Linked DNA regions of Homo sapiens. The protein of the gene in region 3 purifies or fractionates together with the protein of the main gene of each other region. This does not show direct contact. Each region holds a gene or a part of one and is shown on either strand. Other genes may lie near its edges.

Region 1 (3,500 bases), on a different chromosome or scaffold from region 3:
CCATCAACACCAAATACCATGTTTACGTTTTGTTTTATTGAAACAGGGTCTCATTCTGTGAACCCAGATTGAAGGGCAGTGGCAAGATCAGGGCTCGCTGCAGCCTCAACCTCCCAGGTTCAAGTGATCCCGCCACCTCGGCCTATTGAGTCCTGGGACTATAGGTGCACACCACTGCACCTGGCTGATTTATGGGTTTTTTTTTTTTTTTGTAGACACAGGGTCTCACTATGTTGCCCAGGCTCATCTCCAGCTCCTGGGCTCAAGCAATCTTCCTGCCTCTGCCTCCCTCAAAGTGCTGGGTTTACAAATCCCATCACTTTGGGAGGCCAAGGTGGGTAGATCACCTGAAGTCAGGAGTTCGAGACCAGCCTGGCCAACATGGTGAAACCCCATCTCTACTAAAATTACAAAAATTAGCCGGGCGTGGGCTGGGCACGGTGGCTCACACCTGTAATCCCAGCACTTTGGGAGGCCGAGACAGGCAGATCACGAGGTCAGAAGACCGAGACCATCCTGGCTAACAAGGTGAAACCCTATCTCTACTAAAAATATAAAAAATTAGCTGGGCATGGTGGCGGGCGCCTGTAGTCCCAGCTACTCGGGAGGCTAAGGCAAGAGAATGGCGTGAACCCGGGAGGTGGAGTTTGCAGTGAGCCGAGATGGCGCCACTGCATTCCATCCTGGGCAACAGAACAAGGGTCTGTTTCAAAAAGAAAAAAAAAAAAAATTAGCCGGGAGTGGTGGCAGGCGCCTGTAATCTCAGCTACTCGGGAAGCTGAGGCAGGAGAATCGCTTGAACCCGGGAGGCGGAGGTTGCAGTGAGCCGAGACCGCACCATTGCACTTCAGCCTGGACGAAAGAGCGAGACTCCGTCTCAAAAAAAAAAAAAAAAAAAGAAATACCCAAGTGGGCACAAAAATGATACACATTCAGCAGGGCACGGTGCCTCACGCCTATAATCCCAACACTTTGGGAGGCCAAGGCGGGCAGATCACGAGGTCAGGAGATTGAGATCATCCTGGCTAACATGGTAAAACCCCGTTTCTACTAAAAATACAAAAAAAAAAAAAAAAAAATTGGCCGGGAGTGGTGGCGGGTGCCTGTAGTCCCAGCTACTCGGGAGGCTGAGACAGGAGAATGGTGTGAACCCGGAAGGTGTAGCTTGCAGTGAGCCGAGATCGCGCCACTGCACTCCAGCCTGGGTGACAAGAGTGAGACTCTGTCTCAAAAAAAAAAAAAAAAAAAGATACACATTCACAGCAGCATTGTCCATCTACTTCCCTCAAGTTCCACAAACACCACTCTAGTCTGAGCCACCATCGTTTCTCTCCGACAAAACTACAGCAGGCTGGACGCAGTGGGTCACACCTGTAATCCCAGCACTTTAGGAGGGCAAGGCATGAGGATCACTTGAGCCCATGAGTTCGAAACCAGCCTGGGCAACAAAGTAAGACTCCATCTGTACAAAACAAAAAAAAATTAGCTGGGTGTGCCAGGCGCGGCGACTCACGCCTGTAATCCCAGCACTTTGGGAGGCCAAGGTGGGAGGACCATGAGTTCAGGAGATGGAGACCATCGTGGCTAACACGGTGAAACCCCGTCTCTACTAAAAATACACAAAATTAGCCGAGGCGGTCGGATCACTTGAGGTCAGGAGTTCGAGACCAGCCTGGCCAATATGGTGAAACTCCATCTCTACTCAAAATACAAAAATTAGCCAGGCGTGGTGGCACGTGCCTGTAGTCCCAGCTACTCGGGAGGCTGATCCTAGAGAACATCATCCTTGCTCCCATCCTTGCTCCCACCTTAGGACCTTGGCATTAGTGCTTCCCATTGCTTCTTCCCTCAACTTCTTAAGGGACACATTCTTTAGGTCTCAGCTCAATTGTCACCTCCTTAGAGAAGTCCATACTGGCCACCTAATTTAAAATAGGTCCACATCCTCTTCTATCTCGAATTATGCTACTTGTTTTTGTTTTGATTAAGATGGGGTCTGTGTTGCCCACTGTTTTGATTGAAATGGGGCCTCACTAAGTTGCCCAAGCTAGTCTCAATTGCCTGGCTCAAGTGATCCTCCAACCTCAGCCTCCCCAGTAGCTGGGATCACAGCCACACACCACTGTGCTAAGCTACACTACTTGTTTATATGTTTACTGCCCCCTCCTCCATTAGAATGTAAACTCCAGAAACCACTGTATCACTAGAACCAGTAACTTCCTTGGCATTTAGGACATACTGTTACTCAAATGGCTGTGAATTAATAGACACACCAAAACAAACCTGTGTCCATCAGCAGAATTATAGAAATCTGGTACATAATAAAATAATAATGGCCAACATTTATCTAACACTTACTATGTGCCAAGCACTGTTCTACTAAGCTCTTTGTATGTATTATGTCATTTAATTCCCATGACAATCTAATGGGCTGGCACTTTGTTACCCCTCTTTTGCAGCTGAGAAAACAGGCACAAAGAAGGTAACTTCTGGCCAGGCGCAGTGGCTCATGCCTGTAATCCCAGCACTTAAGGAGGCTGAGGCGGGTAGATCACCTGAGGTCAGGAGTTCAAGACCACCCTGGCCAACATGGCGAAACCTGGTCTCTACTAAAAATACAAACATTAGCTGGGCGCGGTAGCAGGCGCCTGTAATCCCAGCTACTTAGGAGGCTGAGGCAGGAGAATTGCCTGAACCCGGGAGGCAGAGGTTGCAGTGAGTCTAGATCACGCCATTGCACTCCAGCCTGGGCAACAAGAGAGAAATTCCGTCTCAAAAAAATAAAAAAATAAAATACACACACATAGGCCGGGTGTAGTGGCTCACGCCTGTAATCCCAGCACTTTGGGAGGCCGAGGTGGGCAGATCACTTGAAGTGAGGAGTTTGAGACCAGCCTGGCCAACATGGTAAAACCCCGTCTCTACTAAAAATATAAAAATCAGCCAGGTGTGGTGGCACGCGCCTGTAATCCGAGCTACTCCAGAGGCTAAGGCAGGAGAATCGCTTGAACTCAGGAGGCGGAGGTTGCAGTGAGCCAAGATTGTGCCACTGCACTCCAGCCTGGGCGACAGAGTGAGAGTCCATCACAAAAAAAAAAAAAAAACAACACACACACACACACACACACACAATCAGCTGAGTGTTACGGCATACGCCATGCACACACAAAATTAGCTGAGTGATATGGCATACGCCTGTGGTCCCAGCTACTTGGGGGCTGAGGCGGGAGAATCCCTTGAACCCGGGAGGTGGAGGTTGCAGTGAGCTGAAGATCACGTCACTGCGTCACTGCACTCCAGCCTGGGTAACAGAGCGAGAAAAAAAAATTTTAGTTGTAATTGTCAACTATCAATAAAAACTCCAGAAACTTGGCCTCAATTTAAGCAACCAAATCTGCTCTAGGAAGCTGCTTCTTTACTTTATTTTATTTTATTTATTTATTTTTGAGACAGAGTTTCGCTCTTGTCACCCAGGCTGGAGTGCGATAGTGTGACCTTGG
Region 2 (3,500 bases), on a different chromosome or scaffold from region 3:
ACGATTTGTTGTCATATCTGTGATACTATATGTTATTTATGATTTTTCTTCAAATCATTTTAACTTAAATTTGAAAAGAAAACTCTTTCTAAGCATAATTTATCTGTGAAACCAAAAGTTTAATGTGCTATTTTTCTTTTTTTTTTTTTTCCTCTCCAGACGGAGTCTTGCTCTGTCATCCAGGCTGGAGTGCAGTGGCGCTATCTTGGCTCACTGCAACCTCCGCCTCCTGGATTCAAGTGATTCTCCTGCCTCAGCCTCCTGAGTAGCTAGGATTATAGGTGCCTGCCACCACACCCAGCTAATTTTTGTATTTTTAGTAGAGACGGGATTTCACCATGTTAGCCAGGCTAGTCTTGAACTCCTGACCTCAAGTGATCCGCCTGCCTTGGCCTCCGAAAATGCTGGGATTACAGGTGTAAGCCACCATGCCCAGCCTATTTTTCCAATAATTAACTAAATATGCTACTATTCAAATTTTTTTAAAGGCTTGTCCACTTGCCACCTCAAAATGGTCCCATATACTGCCAGTGGAGTAGGGATCACAGTTTGGGAAACACTGTTCTAAGTTCTGAGAGTCTCTGAATGATTTTAAATAAGGGAATGCCATGTTCAGAACTGTTTTTCAGAAAACTCAAGATGGTGGCTTTAAGTAGAATACATTATTTGAGAAGCATCAGAAGCAAATATACAGGTTAGAAGCCATTGCAATAGTCTAGATAAAATATGATATTTTTATGACATCGGTTACTAGAGATGCTGCAGTGGAATGACAGAAAAGATTAGGAAACAATATTTAGGAGGTTAAAATAATTAAAAGTTCAGGTTTGACTAGATTCAGAATGTGAGAGAGAAGAAATCAAAGATGATTCACAGACCAACTGAGATAAGACCTTCGAAAGAAAAAGCAGATTTGGGAGGAAATATGAGTCTAGTTAACAGTTTCTGGAAGACAGTATTCCCTTAACTTGTCATCATTCAAGGAGTTCTTAGAGTTGGGGAGAATTTCATTTCCAACTACCTTTAAAGGACAAATTTTAAAATCAAGGGTCTTGGCATTTAAAAACAAGGCAAAACAAAACCAAAACAAATAAACAAAAAAGACTGGAAGAAATGTTAGCAGGGGCCTTTGATTCTTTTTTTCTCCTGTTTTTTTGTGTCCTCTAAAATATCTTTAAGATACTACTATTCTTTAATCAGAAAATGCAAAAAGGAAGAAGAAACTTTTTTCTATTTTCAGATGTAGAGACAGAAGAAAATCTTTTTCCAAAATTCTCATAACCAGGTGCAGTGGCTCATGCCTGTAATCCTAGCACTTTGGGAGGCTGAGGTGGGTGGATCTCTTGAGGTCAAGAGTTCAAGACCAGCCTGGCCAACATGGTGAAACCCCGTCTCTACTAAAAATACAAAAATTAGCCAGGCATGGTGGAGCACGCCTGTAATCCTAGCTACTCAGGAGGCTGAGATGCAAGAATCACTTGAACTTGGGAGATGGAGATTGCAGTGAGCCAAGATAACGCCATTGCACTCCAGTCTGGGCAACATAGTAAGACTCCGTCTCCAAAAAAAAAAAAAAATTCTTATAACCAGAATTAAAAGCCTCTTTCACTTGCTCTTATGACCCTTTACCACACTAGCAGTCGGTAAGCTTTTATTATACCACATTAAGGTCAATTGCATTTATCTGTTTACTCAAATACTTTAAAAGCCACTTAAAAGTAAGGACCGTGGTCCTGATTCCCATATGCCCACCTCCTAGCAGTATGTTTGGCACGTGGCATCTATCAAGAACCACTTTTGGAATAAATGCACACAGTAAGCACTATTCACCTTTCCTACCAATTGAAATTCATAGTGTACCCTCAGGACTCATTATATTAGGATCTTCTTAGAAAACCATTATTGTGTTACAGGTTAAATCAAAATTCAGATTAGATTAAACAAATGATTTATTTTCCTACCTCATTCCCATTACACATTCATAAAGGAATATGATTCCTTCTTTCTGATGTGGTCGAAGATGATATACAAGGTAAGGATCAATCACTACATCCACAAGAGGGAAACAGTTCTTATTGAATACCCACTGGTGATTCTTATCTGGTCGTGGCATAACGAGGGAATCTTAAAAAATGATAAAAGTACAAGTATTGTAATTTCACTTTTTCAGCAACCAACATTATCTTGTTTTCATTACCCTAAGATAGAAATGTTTGCCATCATTTGTGGCCAAAAAAGTCCAAAATTTAGTCACAGTAATGTTACCCAAGGGCACAAAATTTAAAAAGAAAATCTCATGCCTTACTGATGAACGATTTCATGCAAAGAATTACGAAGAGCCTTCCAAACTTCATATACCCAAAAGTGCTTCGAAAGCAATGAAATTCACTATTGTCTAGTAAGGAATTCAATAAGCCACAACATTGAATAGTTCAGTATTCAGAGCAAAGAGAACTATTTCCAACTGAAAGTACAGGTTGGAATTTTGCCAAGATGCATTTGCCAATGTTCACAGCTTCTCATTCTGAAAAGTCTCCCCAAATTTAACATACAGGCTTTCTATCTTTTCAGTCCTAAACACACTAACAATGATCATTACTCCTATTAATTAGAACTGAGAAAAAATGATAAATTCTCCATTGACTTAGCCACCATTATTTGCTTGAAGTTAATTACTACATTCATGAATGTCAAGTTCATAAAGCTTTTTTTTCTGGGGACAGAGTATCACTCTGTTGCCCAGGGTGGAGTGCAGTGGTGTGATCTCAGCTCACTGCAACCTCCGCCTCCCAGGTTCAAGCAATTCTCGTGCCTCAGCCTCCCAAGTACCTGGGATTACAGGTTCGCGCCACCACACCCGGCTAATTTTTGTATTTTTAACAGAGGCAAGGTTTCACCATGTTAGCCAGGCTGGTCACGAACTCCTGACCTCAAGTGATCTGCCCACCTCAGCCTCCCAAAGTGCTGGGATTAAAGGCATGAGCCACTGCACCCAGCCTCATGAACCTCTTTAAAGCAGCATGAAGTCATCATAGAATAACAATGTAATTCTTCAAAACTATGCTAACACAATTTAAAAGATTTACTAAAATATCACCCAAAAAGGCAAAATCAAATATAACTAGAAGGCAGGTCTCAATTGATAAATCTGAAATTAGATAATAAACCCACCAAAATTATTTTGGGGATATATTTGCATGCCTACATCATGTTTATAAAAATTGAATTAGATAAAAAAAGAAAAAAGAATGAGGAGATGAGAAGAGGAGATAAAAAGAAATAGACTCCAGTAGACTATGTAAATATTCATCAGTGTGGAACTATACTGTCACAGGAATAAGAGTTTAGTCATGTTTACCATTAACAAATACCCAGAGGGTAAGTTTTCTCTGGATCTTCCTAGGTTTCTGAGTAACTGAAATGAACTTTCATCTTTGAGGTCAATTCCTGTTAGGTAGGAGACTAGGAAGTAAAAATGGGAAATGTAGTCCTTGGCTTTC
Region 3 (2,585 bases):
CACTGTGCAGCTGTACGGCCCCACCAACTTTGCCCCCGTGGTCACCCACGTGGCCAGGTGAGTGCCGCTGCCACCGCCTCCAGGCACTCACAAGGCCTCTGTTTCCACACCAGCTCTGCCTCTGGGTGGTGGGAGGGGGTTTCTCTTCCCACGCACTTGCCTTTCAGGGAGCCCTGACCCTGAAGAGATTCCCCCAAGAGCTGTCACCCTCCAAAGTGTTCAGGGTCCTTGTTTAGGGGGGAACATGCCCAGAGGTCCCGCAGACAGACCTGAGCCCACACCTGCCCCACCCAGGAATGCAGCGGCCGTGCAGGATGGCTCCCAGTACTCGGTGCTGCTCATCATTACTGATGGGGTCATCTCGGACATGGCGCAGACCAAGGAGGCCATTGTCAACGTAAGCAAGGAGTGTGCGGTGGGGGAGGCGGTTTGAGGAGTGTCTTCCTCCCCGTTAGGGGAACCCTGGGGATGTGCCTACCTCCTTGACCTTAGGGAAATGCTTGGAGATGACTTGGGCGTGGCTTCTCATTTCCCTGCCTCACTGGGCCCCACTGCCCTCATCCACCTTCTGGCCTCTGGCTGCAGAGTCCGGTGCTGGATAGTGGATTCTAGCGGGTGGAAGGGGTGCCCAGATCATGAGAGATCTGGCTGGTGAGCTCTGTTCCCACCTCTTAGTCACGCTCTGGTCTACTCCCTCCAGACCCCAATGACTCCCTCATTAACCCATCTCTAGGACCGCTTCCCCCTTTCCCAGGCCAGCCTGGCCAGGTCAAAGGAGTGGGAGGGGAGGCTCAGAGTTGGGGAAGCTCAGGAACATGGCTCCCCAAGCCGGTGGTCTCCCTGTAAGAGGGGATGGGGGTGACTCACCAAAGCAGACCTATGACCCATTCCCCCTGCCACCCTCCCTCTCTCCTCCAGGCGCAGCCTGGTTTCCTTTGCTCTTTATCTCTGAGTGCCCTCCCTCTCCCTACCCCCTTTTCTGTGTTTCTCTGTCTCTCCATGTTCACTCTCCCATTTCTTTCCTGCCCACCCCTTCCTGTCCTACCCCTGATTTCTCCTTCCTTTTAACTGGGTCCCAATTGGGTCCAACCTTTCCCTGCCCCCCATGCTGTCTCCCAGGCTGCCAAGCTCCCCATGTCCATCATTATCGTCGGCGTGGGCCAGGCAGAGTTCGACGGTGAGTCCAGCTGCTGCCTTCCCCTCCTTTCCTTCCCTAGCCACGCAACCCTGCCCCCACCCCAGATGTTTCCCCAGAGGCTGTGGTCCCCTGGGAATGACCCCTCCCAAAAGAGTGAGAGCTCCCGCCTGGGCGTGTGTGTCTGGGTGAGTGTGCAGGGTGTGGGACGCATTTGTTTGCTCAGGGAAGGGTGTGTCAGGTCTGGGTGTGCACCCACACCCACATCCCAAGGCTGTGGGGAGGAGGCCCCAAGTCACTTCTTTCTCCTCCAGCCCTGGGAGTCTGGGGAGGGTGGTGAACCAAAGCACTGGGCTCAAAGTCAGAGGCTCACCTGATCGGGCTCCTCCTGGCCCCTGGCCTCAGTTTCCTCATCTCTAACACGGGGCATGGGCCAGTGGTCTCGGCCCTGGATTGGCCTGGGATGAAAGGACAAGTCCACTCTCCTGCTAGGGCCAGGGGTCCACCGTTAATCTCACCCCGCCCCATGACACTCCTCCCCTCACAGCCATGGTGGAGCTGGATGGCGACGACGTGCGGATCTCCTCCCGGGGGAAGCTGGCTGAACGCGACATCGTCCAGGTGAAGCCCAGGCCTTGCCTGCCCCATGGGAAATTCAAGAGCCCCTCTAGCCAGGCGGACCTCACACCCCCTTTGGGGGCTTCCCTGGTGAAGGGCCCAGAAGGGAGGCACTGGGAGCCCCAAAGTGGCCCAGCCACCACCGAAGGGAGTAGGAGTCAGTCCTCGGCCATGCTGTGGTCTGGGCTGGGCCCCCCTCTGTCACATCTGGGACACACTCCTAACATTGCGGGTGCCCAGCCAGAGGCCAGAACCCTCTGCCAGCCCTTCCTCAGCCTCCAGGCCTCTGTGGTCAGCCTCGTTCTGGTTTTTTTCTGCCCCTTGAAGGCTGAGGCAGTGTCTTTAGTGTTGCTGCAGCCTTCTCCAAGAATAGGCATTGCTCGGTTAACTGAATCAATGTAAGCATCTCCATGAACGGTGCAAATATAATGAGCAGAAAGACCTTTGTCCTCAGGGAATTCCCATGCAGTCTCACGTGGAAGAATGCACCCTCCGCAAGCACTTCCCCCACTCATCCCCTGCAGAGGAGGCCCTAGTGCTTAGGAGATGCAGAAGACAAAGCTGACATCCTGCATACCCCCTTGGTTTAAAAATTGGGGCCCAGTATCCCAGGTGTGGAGACCAAACATAGGGGGCTGGAAACCAGAGCAAGACAACCTGGGAGGTGGGACCGGCCCATGCTAAGGCCTGGAGGCAGGAGTGAGCCAGAAGAGGCGCTCAGGATGGAGGGCACCCCCGGGAAGAAGCCAGATGGGCCTGGCATTAGGCATTGGCCAGATTAGCCCCAGAGAGAAAAGGAACGAAGAGAGGCCAGAGAGAGAGGGCTCTGCTG
Region 4 (3,500 bases), on a different chromosome or scaffold from region 3:
GGGGAGGGAGAGCACTAGGACAAATACCTAATGCATGCGGGGCTTAAAACCTAGATGATGGGTTGATAGGTATAGCAAACCACCATGGGACATGTATACCTATGTAACAAACCTGCACATTCTGCACATGTGTCCCAGAACTTAAAATAAAAAATAATTGCATTTCAGATTGTTAACTCTGTTTTTCTTTAATTGATGCATTTGCTGACCTGTCTACTGTATCCTTTGCCCAAAGGAGATGCAGAAACTACCAGAGGCCGTTCAGCTAATTGAGAAGGCCAGCATGATGTATCTAGAAAACGGCACCCCAGACACAGCAGCCATGGCTTTGGAGCGAGCTGGAAAGTGAGTGTGAGATGGACAAGTCTCTGCATAGAAGTCTTGTCTTTTTGTTTTAAAGAGGTCCCTGAAAAACAAGTTTTCCATTTCTCATATAAGACATGTTTTCTTGTCTGATTCAGGCTTATAGAAAATGTTGATCCAGAGAAGGCTGTACAGTTATATCAACAGACAGCTAATGTGTTTGAAGTAAGTTTGAATCTTATTTTTTTCTTTAATTACTTAGAATGTTTAGATTAATAATATATAGGAAAATAGAGAAGTGCAGTGGCTACTTTTAAAACTTTTCCCTGCTCACAGTTGCACGCTATTTCTTTTCTGTTAGAGAGTAGTGAAATGAACTAGCAGCTTTCGTGTTCCCCCCTTGATCCAGTGCCATTACTTCTTTACAAAATAAATATTAGGGGATAAAAACATTTCAACATTAAAGCAGCCAACACTTGTTTTTCTTTGATTCCTTCAGAATGAAGAACGCTTACGACAGGCAGTTGAATTACTAGGAAAAGCCTCCAGACTACTAGTACGAGGACGTAGGTATGTCTTTAAAAACTATTGCTGTGTGTTTAACTATACTTTGAATCCACATTTGGAACTGGAAAGTAATTTGGGGGATAGCTTGTTAATTTTTTGGTATAAGCTGTAGACACACCAGGCCACACAATAGAATATTAACATTTACTAGACAGTAGGCACACTGAATTAGATATTAAAAGATCTGCTGTTTTTTGAAAGTGTAATGCCCAAATTTATCATGCACTGTGCTTTTATTGGTTGAACCCTGGCTCAGCAACATGAAAGGGAACAGTTTCCTTCATCTGTTACTTGGTTGGATTATAATATCTCTCTCAAGGAAAAATAAGAATATTAGGATAAATGACAAAGATGCATAAACACTCACCCATGAAAACTGACAGGTTCTTGACAAATAGTGTCATTATTAGAATATTTACCTTGTTATCGTTTCACATATGACCTGAAGCACAAATAGTTGAACCTCAGAAAGCTAAAATCCTATTGGGATTTCCTTTTGTTTTTTTACTTTATCTCAGTTTACTTTTAGTAAACAATTTTTTTCATTAATAAAATTCTGTCTCAATAATATTTAAGATAAACATCTCTAGGAGATTGTAAGTCTGCAGATATCTTAATTGAAATTTGTCCAAAGCTTCCCAGTAACAGAAAACACCCAAGATCCATTTAATATGTCAAGGAATCAAAATAGAAATGACTGATGAATCTATCCTATCTGAGACTGAATTAAATTTTTTCTTCATGAAGACTGCAGATTCTGAAATACAATTTAAACCGGTCTAGAGTAATATGAGAATAAATTAATCTAGAATTAACTATTAAACAATCTCATTTAGATTAATTTGTTTATAGGACCTTCCTTCACTGAGGAGTATTTTTTTGTCTAAATGGAATAGAAATTTCATTTTGTTTTTAAATTAGGACTTTAATCATGAAGGAAAGTTTAATTTAAATGTCAGTCCGGGGTCATTATCTTTATTCATCTTATTACTTACTCGTCGCTTCCCAGAAATCAGTGAATGAAATGCTAACTCTGACAAATCCCAACTTAAAAATGGTTCACTTTAGTTTCTGAAAGTGTTTGTTACAGCAGCAGAGCTGTTCTTGGTGATGGCGTTATGGCTGTGGCAAAATAGCTGAACTGTGAGGTGATACCAAGGTTCTGACTTGTGAGCAGGGGCCCCATGTCTTAGAAACAGTGTCCTTCATTCTTTTCAGGGCAGCTAGGAGGCAAGTTTTAGCATAGTTTACCTCCTTTCTCTTCTGTTCTCATCTCCTGATGCTCCCCGACAAGACTCCCAGTGCCTTTCTAGAGCGCTAAGCCCCTTACTATAAGACCCCATGGAAGGTGAAGGAAGTGAAGTTGCAGGAAGGGGCAGAAGTTAAGGACAGCCCTGTGTGAAAGTCCAGACTGCATCAGCTCCCCTGAAGTATTTCTGCTTTCCACATCTTCTTTCCTTTTGTTTCTCAAGGTATAGATTATCTAAAGCTGTGTTGTAGAGGGAGTAGCAGGAAAGGAGAGAGGCCAGGATCTTTTCGGGGGAGGTCAGATGAGGAACGTTTTCCAGCTGCCTGTGCATATTCCTTTAGAAAGCTCCACTAGGGATGGGGGCCACCATCATCCTCAAAACATTACCAGTGTTGCCAGTCGGTTTGGACACATCTGATGAAAGCCATTGTTTTAAAGCAATTACTGTGTTAAATTCTTCAAAGCCTCAGCAGAGGGGAGAATGCTAGTTGAGTGAGCAGCAGAAGTGAGAATGCTGCGTAGATGTGCTCAAAGGGCACATTTATAAATCCAGGGCTTTTATTCGTGACTTTGTTTTATTGGTTTTTTTTTTTTCTTTTTAGGAAAAATGTATTTTAAAATGGTACTTTCTACTGTGCTCAACAAAAATGTTATGGAAATATATTTTTGAAGTGTATTAACAATATAAAAATTAATTTAAATTTGTGCAGGAACATGAAGGAATTTGATCTTTTGAAAAGTGTTGCTGGGTATCTTGGTATGAAAAAATTAAGTCTACTGTCATGGTACTTCTATTGGGAACTTAAATAGTGCAGGATAAGAAAAAACATGCAGTGTTTATAGTGATGGAGACATTATTGAGATGATTTATGTGATAATTGAAAATATTAACTATGTGCTTAGATTATTATTTGATTGCATCTGTTGCCTAAAAGAACTAAACAGGTGGTAATTTTATGCTTCACACAAGCAACATCTACTAATAGACTGTGTGGCATGGAGTCTAAAGTTTTATGTTTGTTATATTTAGTTAGTGCACTTATGTTTTTACATTAACATGAGTCCATAAGATGTCCTAATTTAATACTTTCTATGTTAGTGTAGCAAAGAATCTATTTAATATATTAATCTCTTGCTTCTCCTTCAGTTTTGGAGAGTCAAAATTCAGAAGTGATTCGTAGTTTCATTTAGATTACATCTGGGAAAAGTCAGTCCAAGGCCAGTGCCCTTGTTCCTTTTTAGAAAAGGCCTTTCCAGGCTGGGTGCAGTGGCTCATGCCTGTAATCACAACACTTTGGGAGGCTGAGGCAGGCAGATCACCTGAGGTCAGAAGTTCAAGATTAGCCTTGGCCAAATGGTGAAACTCCTTCTCTACTAAAAA
Region 5 (3,500 bases), about 120 Mb from region 3:
GATTAACATTCTTTGATATCTGCCTTGAATCATGGAATTGGAATATTGGGAAAAAGTATTAGTAATTTCAAAAAATAAACTAAACATAACTGCTGGAAGGAGTACTTGAAAATTCTGATGGAAGTCATAAATTACTAATATATCTCCTTCAAGCTACACTGGCATAGACTACAGCCTTATTTAGGTCTCTCCAAAGAATCCTACAGTGGTCACTGGTGCCCACATGCTTTCCTGTTAAGTAGGGTATCTACAAGTACTGTTAAAAACTTTTTTTTTTTGGCTAGGTGTGGTGGCTCAAGCCTGTAATCCCAGCACTTTGGGAGGTAGAGGCGGGCGGATCACTTGAGACCAGGAGCTTGAGACCAGCCTGGCCAACGTGGTAAAACCTCGTCTCTACTAAAAATACAAAAATTAGCTGGGCGCGGTGGCACATGTTTGTAATCCCAGCTACTCAGGTGGCTGAGGCACGAGAATTGCTTGAACCCGGGACGTTGGGGTTGCAGTGAACCAAGATCGCACCACTGCACTTCAGCCTGGGTGACAGAGCGAGACGCCTGTCTCAAAACAAAAAAATAAAACACAACACTTTTTTTTTTGTTTTAAATCTAAGAGAAACCTAAGCTAACACAAAGCTCCGGACCACGTTTTTAGGCACAGGAGCTGAAACACGTGCTTTGGCGCCTGAGGGCCTGGCTTCCTGACTGGAACACTCGATGCGTCTCTCTGGGCATCAGTTTGCCTGCAGTAAAACAGGGGTTTTATGTACCACAAAGGGATATGAGGGCTACATGCGAATGATACAAACCTCTCTGCACAATGCCTGGCACATGGCAAGTGATTAACAAAACAGTAAAACATTTAAAAGAGAGTTGTTATTATTATTCTTTTTAGCTTTCCTGTGACATTAGCAATGAAACCTTAATATGTCATAAATTGATAAAGCTAGAAGTAATGAAAACAGTTTGGGAAATCATTAAATAAAATAAATATTTCACTTATTAACCTTGTAAATCAAAAATCCTTTTTTTTTTTTAAGTAAGCTTCTCAGTTAAGATCCAAATAAAAATAACTGAATCATATCCAAAACTTAGGAGATCACTGGAAAGGGAAAAGGCCAGCTGCCTCTTGGTAGGGTATATACTTTGTATTAATGTATACTTCTACCACGGCCCTGGTTCCCTGGCTCCCCTTTAAACTTACTTGTTAAGGGGAATTTTCATGGATGAGGAACTAGCACGACTGTTTCCTCGCTGAGCGCCGCCTGCATCAGCTGACTCTGAATCCTTAAAGTAGGAAGAGGATTTGGGCCCATCCCAGTCTTCATCCCAGTCATCATCATCACCAGTTGCTAGAGGTGAAAATGGAAGATCATCAGTTAAAAAAAAAAAAAAGACCAAAATAAAAATGAAATTACTTAATTTTCTGACAGTAACTACCTACTGGGCAAATCAATTTTTTTTTGATGGAGAAAAGGGTATAGTATAGGAGTATAATATGGATGTTAAGAGTAAAGGCTGTGTAGTCAATTTTAAGCCTTGAATTACAGATTCTTTTAGTGCAAAAGACAAATCAGAAGCAACTTAAAGAGGGCTATCAGATTACTTTTAAATTTTTGACACGGGCACCGAGATGACACAGTGGAGAAAGGGCAGTCTCTTTAGTAAGTCGTGCTGGGAAAACCAGGTATCTACATGCAAAAGAATAAAACTGGACCTTGTCTTACACCACACACAAAAATCAACTTAAAATAGATTACAGACCTAAATGGAAGACCTGAAACCACACAACTCCTAGAAGGAAACACAGGGGAAAAGCTCCTTGGCGCTGGCCTTGGCAAATGTTTTTTTGAGTATTACACCAAAAGCACAGGGAACAAAGTCAAAAATAACAGGCGGGACTACATGGAACTAAAAAGCTTCTGAACAGCAAAGGAAACAATCAAAATGAAAAGGTAGCCTATGGGCTGGTGTAGGGAGACCCCCTGAAACTATTGCTATGGAATAAAAGATGAAATGCTCCTGATTATTGTAAATACAAAATTGCATGCAGGATTGTGTAAAGACAGTGCCAGGTGGGACTGCCAGAATGAGCCAACAGCATGTGATGTGCTTCCCCCTGCAGAGAGCCTATGAATGGATGTGCAGTCAGGGAGGTTTCACATCACCAAGATTCCTATCCCAGAAAAGCAGATATTCATAGCTCTGGGAATGGAAAGTGACCCTTGTAAAGAGCCTATAAACAGACACATGGGGGCACCGTCCATATGGATAAGATAGGGCTATAAACGCCCTCATCTTGCCAGGGCTCTTCTGGGCCTCTTTAGGGTTAAGGCATACTCCCTTCTGAGAATTTCTGGTCTAACAGGTTGTCTAGCTTCACGTCCTGTTTCTACGGATTGTTTGTAACCAGCTTTTGCTGCAACTGTTACTGCTGATTAATATCTTGCTAATCATAGGTTATGGAAAGACTGTGTTTCTGTTTTAAGGCTCTGTCAGAAATTACTGATGCATACACTATATTGTAAATTCTTATCTCTGTATACTGTACTTCTGCATACAGATGTTATGTTAAAGAATTACTTCATCCCCATGTGACCATCTCACCTCATAATCAAATGACCCTAAATCCCTCACTAACCTACCCCCGCCCTCACTAAACTTAATAATAAATGCTGGTATATCCAGTGCATTGTTGGCACTGCAGGACCAGAAGGCAGTGACCCCCCCGGACCCAGCTTTCGCTATCTTGTGTGTGTCTATTATTTCTCAACGGGCCGATCCGCCTGGGAACACAAAGAGAACCCCGTTGCATTGCGGGCTGCTGGCCAGATCCCGCAATAGGCTGGGAGAAAATATTTGCGAGCCATGTATCTGATAACCTGTTAATATTCAAAACATATAATGAACTCGCACAATTCAATAGCAAATAAAAAAAGCTCAATTAAAAAATGGACAAAGGACCCAAATTGACATTTTTCCAAAGAAGACCAAAAAATGGCCAAGAGGTATATGAAAATGCACTCAACATCACACACAAAGAAAAATACCACATGGATCTTATTTACATGTGGAACTTTTAACAGGTCTTTAAAAAAATCTAAAAAACTTATAGAAGCAGAAAGTAGAAAGGTGGTTACCAGGGGCAGGGAGACGGGGAACTAGGGAGATGCAGGTCAAAGGTACAAAGTTGCAGTCATGTAGGATAAGTCTAGAGATCTCATGTACAGCATGAGGACTACAGTTAATGATATTGCATTATATTTGGGAAACCTGCTGAGGGAGATTTTAGGTGCTCTTACCACACACACACCCACAGGCACGCACTTGCACATATACACGCGCACACACACACACTTAGGTAATCATGTGAGGTGAGGGATATGTTAAGCGCTTGGCTGTAGTAATGATTTCAGTATATACATGTATATTACAACATCACGCTGTATACCTCAAATATAGATAATTTTTTTTTTGAGACGGAGCCTCGCTTTGTTGGCCAGG
Region 6 (3,500 bases), on a different chromosome or scaffold from region 3:
ATATCTGACATCAGTGGGGATTCTATCTAAATTTATTTGAAAAGTTTAACACTAATGATAAAATTCTTAATTTTTACAGTAATACAAATACAAACTTTGGCAGGAAATAGCGTTCAGCAGTCCTGCGAAAGAAGTGCTTTTAGAGTAGTCTAAACATTCTTCTAAATGGTTTTATCCTTTATTGTATCAAATAACTACATATTAATTTTATTGTTTTCTACAGTGCTGTAGGAAAAATCAATATTCTTTTTTTTTCTTTTTGAAACAGGGCCTTGCTCTGTTGCTCAGGCTGGAGTGCAGTGGCACCATCTCGGGTCACTGCAACCTCCACTTCCCAGGTTCAAGTGATTCTCCTGCCTCAGCCTCCCAAGTAGCTAGTATTACAGGCACGCACCACCCACACCTGGCTAAATTTCGTATTTTCATAGAGATGGGGTTTCACCATGTTGGCCAGCCTGGTCTCGAACTCTTGACCTCAAGTGATACACCTACCTCAGCTTTCCAAAGTGCTGGAATTACAGACGTAAGCCACTGCACCCAGCCAGAAAAATCAATGTTCTTACTATATTAGGAAATCTGTGAAACACAAAAGTACTTGAATTTGGAATTACAATTCATGATTCTATCCAAATGAGCTGCAAGATAACACACCAACAAAAAAGAAGCCATACTTGTCAAATTTTCAGATTTTATTTATATCTAGAATTGCTGAACAACAGAATTTTTGAAAAAAACATGTTTTGTTTCTGTTTTTGTTGCCCAGGCTGGAGTGCAGTGGCCCTACCACGGCTCACTGCAGGCTTGACCTGGGCTCAAGCAATCCTCCCACCTCAGCTGCACACAAATCAATGTGATATACAGAAAAACTACTAGACCTCCTGGCCTCAAGCAATCCTCCCACCTCAGCAGCGCACAAACCGATGTTAATTAAATACACAAAAAATACTAGCATTGCAGGACATACTTTCTCCCTCTGCTTGGAGTGATTGGGTTTTTAAAATCTTTAAGCCTTTGAAGAGCGAGCGACTCTGTAAAACAACCTAAGTGTCCTACTGTAATAATGGTATTATTATTATTAGAAACAAGTCCTCTAAATCTTAGTTGCATTTAGTTGAAAACAGACATCTTTAATCAAAGCATTAAACTTAAGCTTTTGAAGCTTTTAGTGAAATGCAATTCATGAAAACAAAACTTATGCACAGGAAGACACTGAAATTTATCCCTACAAAAGCAAATAAGAATTGAACAAATTGTACATGAAAAGCTGAAATGGTGAATGATTTCATTTTAAAATTCTGTAACTGTACTTTGGAATATCTTGACTTGTGGGAAGAATATTTTGATAGAACTCCTATTTTTAATTGTATTAATTTATGTTCTGTGCCAGAATGAAATAAAAGAGTAGGCTTAAAATCTGTGAAACATCCAAAAGAATCATAGACAACTTGATGAATTTTGTCCTTAAAAACAGTGAAGACCCTATTATTGAAGAAGTGTACCCTGAATGGAGATAAAAAGACAGAACCTATAAAAATACTGAGGCTGAAGTATTTACCCATTTCAATTAAAACAAATTCTTAAAAATTATGACTCTCCCAGCTAGTAGAATTTGCTCTGAGCCTGCCAAGTACCTTAGAACCTAACATTTTTCTCATTAAAAAATATTATAGTCTAGGCCAGGCATGGTGGCTCACGCCTGTAATCCCAGCACTTTGGGAGGCGAGACCAGCCTGACCAACAATGGAGAAACCCCATCTCTACTAAAAATACTAAATTATCCAGGCATGGTGGCGCATGCCTGTAATCCCAGCTACTTGGGAGGCTGAGGCAGGAGAATTGCTTGAACCTGGGAGGCAGAGGTTACAGTGGGCCGAGATGGTGCCATTGCACTCCAGCCTGGGCAACAAGAGTGAAACTCTGACTCAAACAAATAAAAAAAAGAAAAGAATTGAAGATTTAACTTCAAATTTATTCAGCATAAAATGCAACTCTAAACAAGGCTACAGCTAATTTTTTATGAGAAAAATTAAAATAACACTGTATTAAAAATATATTTTTCAGAAAAATATCAGCAATACCATGGGACAGACAGGCTAAGAAACTGATTAAAGCACATAAATATGTACCAGAAATGATTATCTTACATATGTTAACATTTAGATCATATGTTTAATGTTTGGATAATCAATGTAAATAAATATTTTTATTTTTTTCTTAGGTAAACTGGGTAAGTTGTTAATTTACATATTCCTAGAAAATTATACCTTTGTTTCAAATTTTCAAAACTATTGGCATAAGGGTGTCAATGTATTCACGTATTTTGAAGCCTATATTGTACCTTTTTTATCTCTAATATTATTTTATTTGTGCCTTCTCTTTTTTGATTCATGACTCTTGCTAAAGCATTGTTCTACTAGGTTCTACCCCCAATAAACCAGATTTTAGTTATAAGATGTATGGGATTTACTTTAAAATAATAAAGAGTAAGGCGGGGTGTGGTGGCTCATGCCTGTAACCCCAGCACTTTGGGAGGCCAAGGCTGGTGGATCAATTGAGGTCAGGAGTTCAAGACTAGCCTGGCCAACATGACGAAACCTTGTCTCTACTAAAAATACAAAAATTAGCCAGCTGTTGCGGAGGGCATCTGTGATCCCAGCTACTTGGGAGGCTGAGGAGAGAGAATCACTTGAACCCAGGAGGCAGAGGTTACAGTGAGCCGAGATCGTGCCACTGCACTCCAGCCTGGGCGACAGAGCTAGACTCCATCTCAACAAAAAAGAAATCCGCTATCAGTGTCTGGGCATGAAGATTAATTATATCAAGACTTCATCAGCTTTATGACATAACCTCAAGGAGTCAATGATTACCAACGCATTTCTTACTACCTCAACTCTATCCTCAGAGAGCAACATTCCTTCCCTAATCTGACCACCTCTTCTTGACTCTTAATCATTGAGTCTCATGAGGTTCATGGTGAGGCACAAGCAAAATCTCTATATACTCAGCTTTCTTTCTGGTCATTCTTCTGGGGTCACTGCTTCCTCTTCAGCCCTCTTAAGTAGTGACTGATTACTTTCTATACCCCACTGGTACTAGAGACAAAATCAAAACCACGTAGTGTCAACCTCACTAATTCAAATTCCTCCCCTTCCATTATCTTGAATCCACTTCAAGGTTTTCATTCTTACCATTCCATAAAACTTGCCAATGGCCTCCACATTGCTAAATCTAATGGTGAATTCTCAGTCTTCAACCTGACTCACCAGGAGCATTTGACAGAGTCTATTATTTCCTGTTCCTCAAACACTTCATTTGGCTTCTAAACATCCTTCTTGTCTTTCAGTTCTCTACTTTTCTAGCTACTCTTTCTTAGTCTCCTTAGCTGGATCCTCTTTAACTTGATCTCTAAATATTTTGGAGTATCCTTGAACCTCTTTTCTTACCTATATTTACTCCTTCCCTAGGTGACTTCATCCAAGTTCACAGTAATAAATATTATG
Region 7 (3,500 bases), on a different chromosome or scaffold from region 3:
TTAGTTATTAGTTACTGGGTGCTAATTTTATGCCAGGCACCATGCTAAGGGATTTACATGTATCATTTCTAATTTTTACAACAACTCCAAAAGTAAGTGATTAGTCCATCTTTAATAATAGTTACCTAAAGTCTTGTGTGTGCCAGATTTTATTTAAAGTCTTTCAAGCAATGGGAACATATCAGTGAACAAGAAAAGTCCCAGTTTTCATGGATTTCAACTTACTTGCTAAATTAAGGGGGAGACTATATACATATACATATATACACATACACACATATGTATACATATACACACATATATATTCATATACATGTAAGTCCTACTTGGTGATATAAGCTAAGACAATAAAGCAGAGTAAAAGGACAGAGAATGGTGGAAGTTGCTATTTTAGACTTTGTGGTGAAGGAAGGCTTTTCTAAAAAGGTGGCATTTGAGTAGACTTGAATTCAGAGAGGGAGTGAACCCCATTTCAAAGAACATTCCAAGTAGCAGAAATAGCCTCTTTTCCGCAGAACAGGCTCCTTTTAGGGTTGTGAGTCTCTCATCCTTAAGGAAGTTCAAGAAGACAAATTAGCCCCCTATTATGGGGTGCTGTAGTGGGATGGTGATGGTGCAAGTAAAGAGGAAGTCTGCAGAAGACTGACAGCCCCTCCCAGTTCTAATAATGGGCACTCTTATACATTTGTTTCCAATGAAAATTCTCATTATTTTAATCAGGACATTTGCTTAGAAACTACTGGGCTTTTTCTTCCCTACCTATGATTATCTATACTATTTTTGAAAAATTTTTGTACAAATCAGCAATAAAATGAGAAAAAAAGAATGGGTTCAGGACACTCAGTCAGACCTGGGGCTAAATCCCAGGCCATACAGCACAGACAGATTACTTAACTCCTCCAGTTTGCATTTCCTCATGATTAAAACTGGACTAATTACTTACTTTTGGAGGTATAAAAATTAGAAATTATACATGCAAATCCCTTAGCATGGCACTTGGAATGGTATAAAATTAGCACTCAATAATAACTATTATTAAGAACTGAGGTTCTTAGAACTCTTCTCTGTTTTCACTTATACCAAATTCCATTCCTATTAAAACTTATCTGTAAAGAAATAGTCTTCAGAGCATGAGTTGGTTAATAAAAAGGGCATATTTATAATATTGATTTATCATGGTTCAATGAAAAGAAAAAAACAACCAAAATGAACAAACCATCTAATATGTGGATGGGTGTGACGTGAATGGTTTCTTGAGAGAGACGTTTATAAAACTTTGGAAACAGGCCAAGAAAACTCCTGCAATTTGCATCATTTAGAGGAATTCTCATTACACTTACTGGGAAAGAGTTTGGCTCCTTTCTATGGCTGTCACTTCCTGCTTCCTGCCATGCAGAACCAATGCAGCTGTTTTGTGGAATAGTTCAATTGAGCAGGCAGTCAGTTCAGCCAGGCTCCGGATTGCAAACGCATGGATATCCTGGATGGAAAAACAAAACAAAGCATAGCAAAACAAAACATTTGGTGGAAAGATACCACCTTACTTCTCTCATACTACAGGATTTGTAGCAGAGACTAATAGTTGCCTTCCAATAAAGAGTGTCTTCTTCTTCCACAGTAGTGATATAATTTTACAGCTGGGCTCCCCTGAAGTCAGGTGTGACGAAGTAACTAAGTTTTGGCCAAATGATTTAGATAACAAGTGTCAGGCAGCAGTTTCTGGGAACCTTCCTCATGACAAAACACACGCGCATCCTTTCTCTCTTTTTTTCTTCACTCCTCCTTTAATCTTATAGTCTGGATCTAAGATGCTACAATCCTAGATCACAAGGTTGAAATTACGGACAGCAGTGTAAAAATAGGAGCCTGGGTCCCTGATTGTGACACATTTCAAATCTACTAAAACAAACAAAAAAGGCTTAGTTGCTTTGGCTACCTCTATTGAATTTTTGTTGACTTGCTCAGTATTTTCTGCTTCCGACTGTTTTTCTCCTTCTTCATTCTCTGCTAATGGCTTGGTCAGAGACTTCCTGATCCATTCGTGGGCGGTATTTCTTGCCTAAATAAGAAAAATATTGGCCATCAACAATTCAATTCAGTTTACCAAAATTACTGTGCACCTACCAGGAACACAATAGCATCCTAGAAGTAAGGGCTCCTGTTCTTACCTGAACGTACCATCTAGCTTTTCAGTCCTTATCCTACTAGTCTCAGCAATACTTATCACTGTGGTCCATCATTCCTTTTCAAAATTCTCTAATTGGTAGTATTTTTTTTTTTTTTTTGAGATGGAATTTCGCTCTTGTTGCCCAGGCTGGAGTGCAATGGCACAATCTTGGCTCACTGCAACCTCTGCCTCCTGGGTCCAAGCGATTCTCCTGCCTTAGCCTCCCGAGTAGCTGGGATTACAGGCGCCCACCACCACGCCCAGCTAATTTTTGTATTTTTAGTAGAGACGGGGTTTCGCCAGGTTGACCAAGCTGGTCTCGAACTCCTGACCTCAGGTGATCCCCCTGCCTCAGCCTCCCAAAGTGCTGGGATTACAGGCATGAGCCACTGCGCCCGGCCTCTAATCAGCTTTTTAAAAAACCAAGGTATAATTTACATAAAGTGCACAAATCTTCAGAGTATGGCTTAAGAAATGTTTTTATGTGTATATGCCTACGAAACCGTGATCAAGATATAGAATATTTCCTCATCCCTAGAAGGTCCCTTCATGTCCCTTCCTAGCCAATACTATTCAAACCATGTCCCCCTCCTCCTGCCCAAAGACAAACCCTCTTCTGCTCACTATAAATAATTTTTCCTAATCTTAAAATGCATAAAAATAGAAATATAAGTTCATTCTAATTTGTGTCTGGCTTAAGCACAACATAATGTCTGTTAGATTTATCCATGTTGCTGCATGTATTAGTTCATTCATATTAACTGCTGTGTAGTATTTCATTTTATATACAGTCATGCACCACATAATGATGTTTGGGTCAACAGCAGACCACATATATAATGGTGGTCCTGTAAGACTGTAATACCATATTTTTACTGTACCTTTTCTATACCATTGTGTTGCAACTGCCTACAGTATTCAGTACTGTAACATGCTGTACAGTTTTGTACAGGAGCAATAGGTTAAACGATATAGCCTAGGTGTGTAACAGGCTACATCAGCTAGGTTTGTGTAAGTACACTCTCTGATATTCGCCCAATGACAAAACTGCCTAATGATGCAGTTCTCATAACATATCCTCATCATTAAGCAATGCATGATTGTATATATCACAATTTATCCATTCTCCTGATAATGAATCTAGTTTTCTTTGGTTTTTGTAACCCCAACTTTCTTCTGTTCTCCTCTGACCTTTATGACCATTTCTCCTCAGTATCTTTTATATATTGATCCTAACTGGCCAGTCTCTTAAACGCCAATATTATTTGGAGGTCTAGCCTTCACTCTTTACTCGTCTCATCCTATTCCCTCTCCATCCATCCTATGCCAGTGG

The links.
Region 1: the proteins of CPNE5 (region 3) and SAE1 purify together in Homo sapiens (affinity purification with mass spectrometry; one large-scale study listed by BioGRID and IntAct). This does not show direct contact.
Region 2: the proteins of CPNE5 (region 3) and RAD54B purify together in Homo sapiens (affinity purification with mass spectrometry; 2 studies listed by BioGRID and IntAct, with this or other methods). This does not show direct contact.
Region 4: the proteins of CPNE5 (region 3) and NAPG purify together in Homo sapiens (affinity purification with mass spectrometry; 2 studies listed by BioGRID and IntAct, with this or other methods). This does not show direct contact.
Region 5: the proteins of CPNE5 (region 3) and SNX9 purify together in Homo sapiens (affinity purification with mass spectrometry; 2 studies listed by BioGRID and IntAct, with this or other methods). This does not show direct contact.
Region 6: the proteins of CPNE5 (region 3) and WDHD1 purify together in Homo sapiens (affinity purification with mass spectrometry; 2 studies listed by BioGRID and IntAct, with this or other methods). This does not show direct contact.
Region 7: the proteins of CPNE5 (region 3) and FAM114A2 purify together in Homo sapiens (affinity purification with mass spectrometry; 2 studies listed by BioGRID and IntAct, with this or other methods). This does not show direct contact.

What each region holds. Positions count from the first base shown.
Region 1 is NC_000019.10:47,137,335-47,140,834, reverse strand, and holds part of SAE1 (SUMO-activating enzyme subunit 1), read right to left. Parts: intron 1-3,500. UniProt on the Homo sapiens protein: The heterodimer acts as an E1 ligase for SUMO1, SUMO2, SUMO3, and probably SUMO4. It mediates ATP-dependent activation of SUMO proteins followed by formation of a thioester bond between a SUMO protein and a conserved active site cysteine residue on UBA2/SAE2.
Region 2 is NC_000008.11:94,402,116-94,405,615, forward strand, and holds part of RAD54B (DNA repair and recombination protein RAD54B), read right to left. Parts: intron 2,125-3,500; coding exon 1,962-2,124; intron 1-1,961. UniProt on the Homo sapiens protein: Involved in DNA repair and mitotic recombination. May play an active role in recombination processes in concert with other members of the RAD52 epistasis group.
Region 3 is NC_000006.12:36,742,860-36,745,444, reverse strand, and holds part of CPNE5 (copine-5), read left to right. Parts: coding exon 1-57; intron 58-294; coding exon 295-397; intron 398-918; coding exon of another isoform or gene 919-1,068; exon of another isoform or gene 1,069-1,113; intron 1,114-1,119; coding exon 1,120-1,177; coding exon of another isoform or gene 1,178-1,323; intron 1,324-1,682; coding exon 1,683-1,756; coding exon of another isoform or gene 1,757-2,155; exon of another isoform or gene 2,156-2,194; intron 2,195-2,585. UniProt on the Homo sapiens protein: Probable calcium-dependent phospholipid-binding protein that may play a role in calcium-mediated intracellular processes. Plays a role in dendrite formation by melanocytes.
Region 4 is NC_000018.10:10,539,527-10,543,026, forward strand, and holds part of NAPG (gamma-soluble NSF attachment protein), read left to right. Parts: intron 1-235; coding exon 236-345; intron 346-461; coding exon 462-528; intron 529-802; coding exon 803-873; intron 874-3,500. UniProt on the Homo sapiens protein: Required for vesicular transport between the endoplasmic reticulum and the Golgi apparatus.
Region 5 is NC_000006.12:157,899,746-157,903,245, reverse strand, and holds part of SNX9 (sorting nexin-9), read right to left. Parts: intron 1,349-3,500; coding exon 1,201-1,348; intron 1-1,200. UniProt on the Homo sapiens protein: Involved in endocytosis and intracellular vesicle trafficking, both during interphase and at the end of mitosis. Required for efficient progress through mitosis and cytokinesis. Required for normal formation of the cleavage furrow at the end of mitosis.
Region 6 is NC_000014.9:55,017,100-55,020,599, forward strand, and holds part of WDHD1 (WD repeat and HMG-box DNA-binding protein 1), read right to left. Parts: intron 1-3,500. UniProt on the Homo sapiens protein: Core replisome component that acts as a replication initiation factor. Binds directly to the CMG complex and functions as a hub to recruit additional proteins to the replication fork.
Region 7 is NC_000005.10:154,000,911-154,004,410, forward strand, and holds part of FAM114A2 (protein FAM114A2), read right to left. Parts: intron 2,060-3,500; coding exon 1,937-2,059; intron 1,481-1,936; coding exon 1,341-1,480; intron 1-1,340.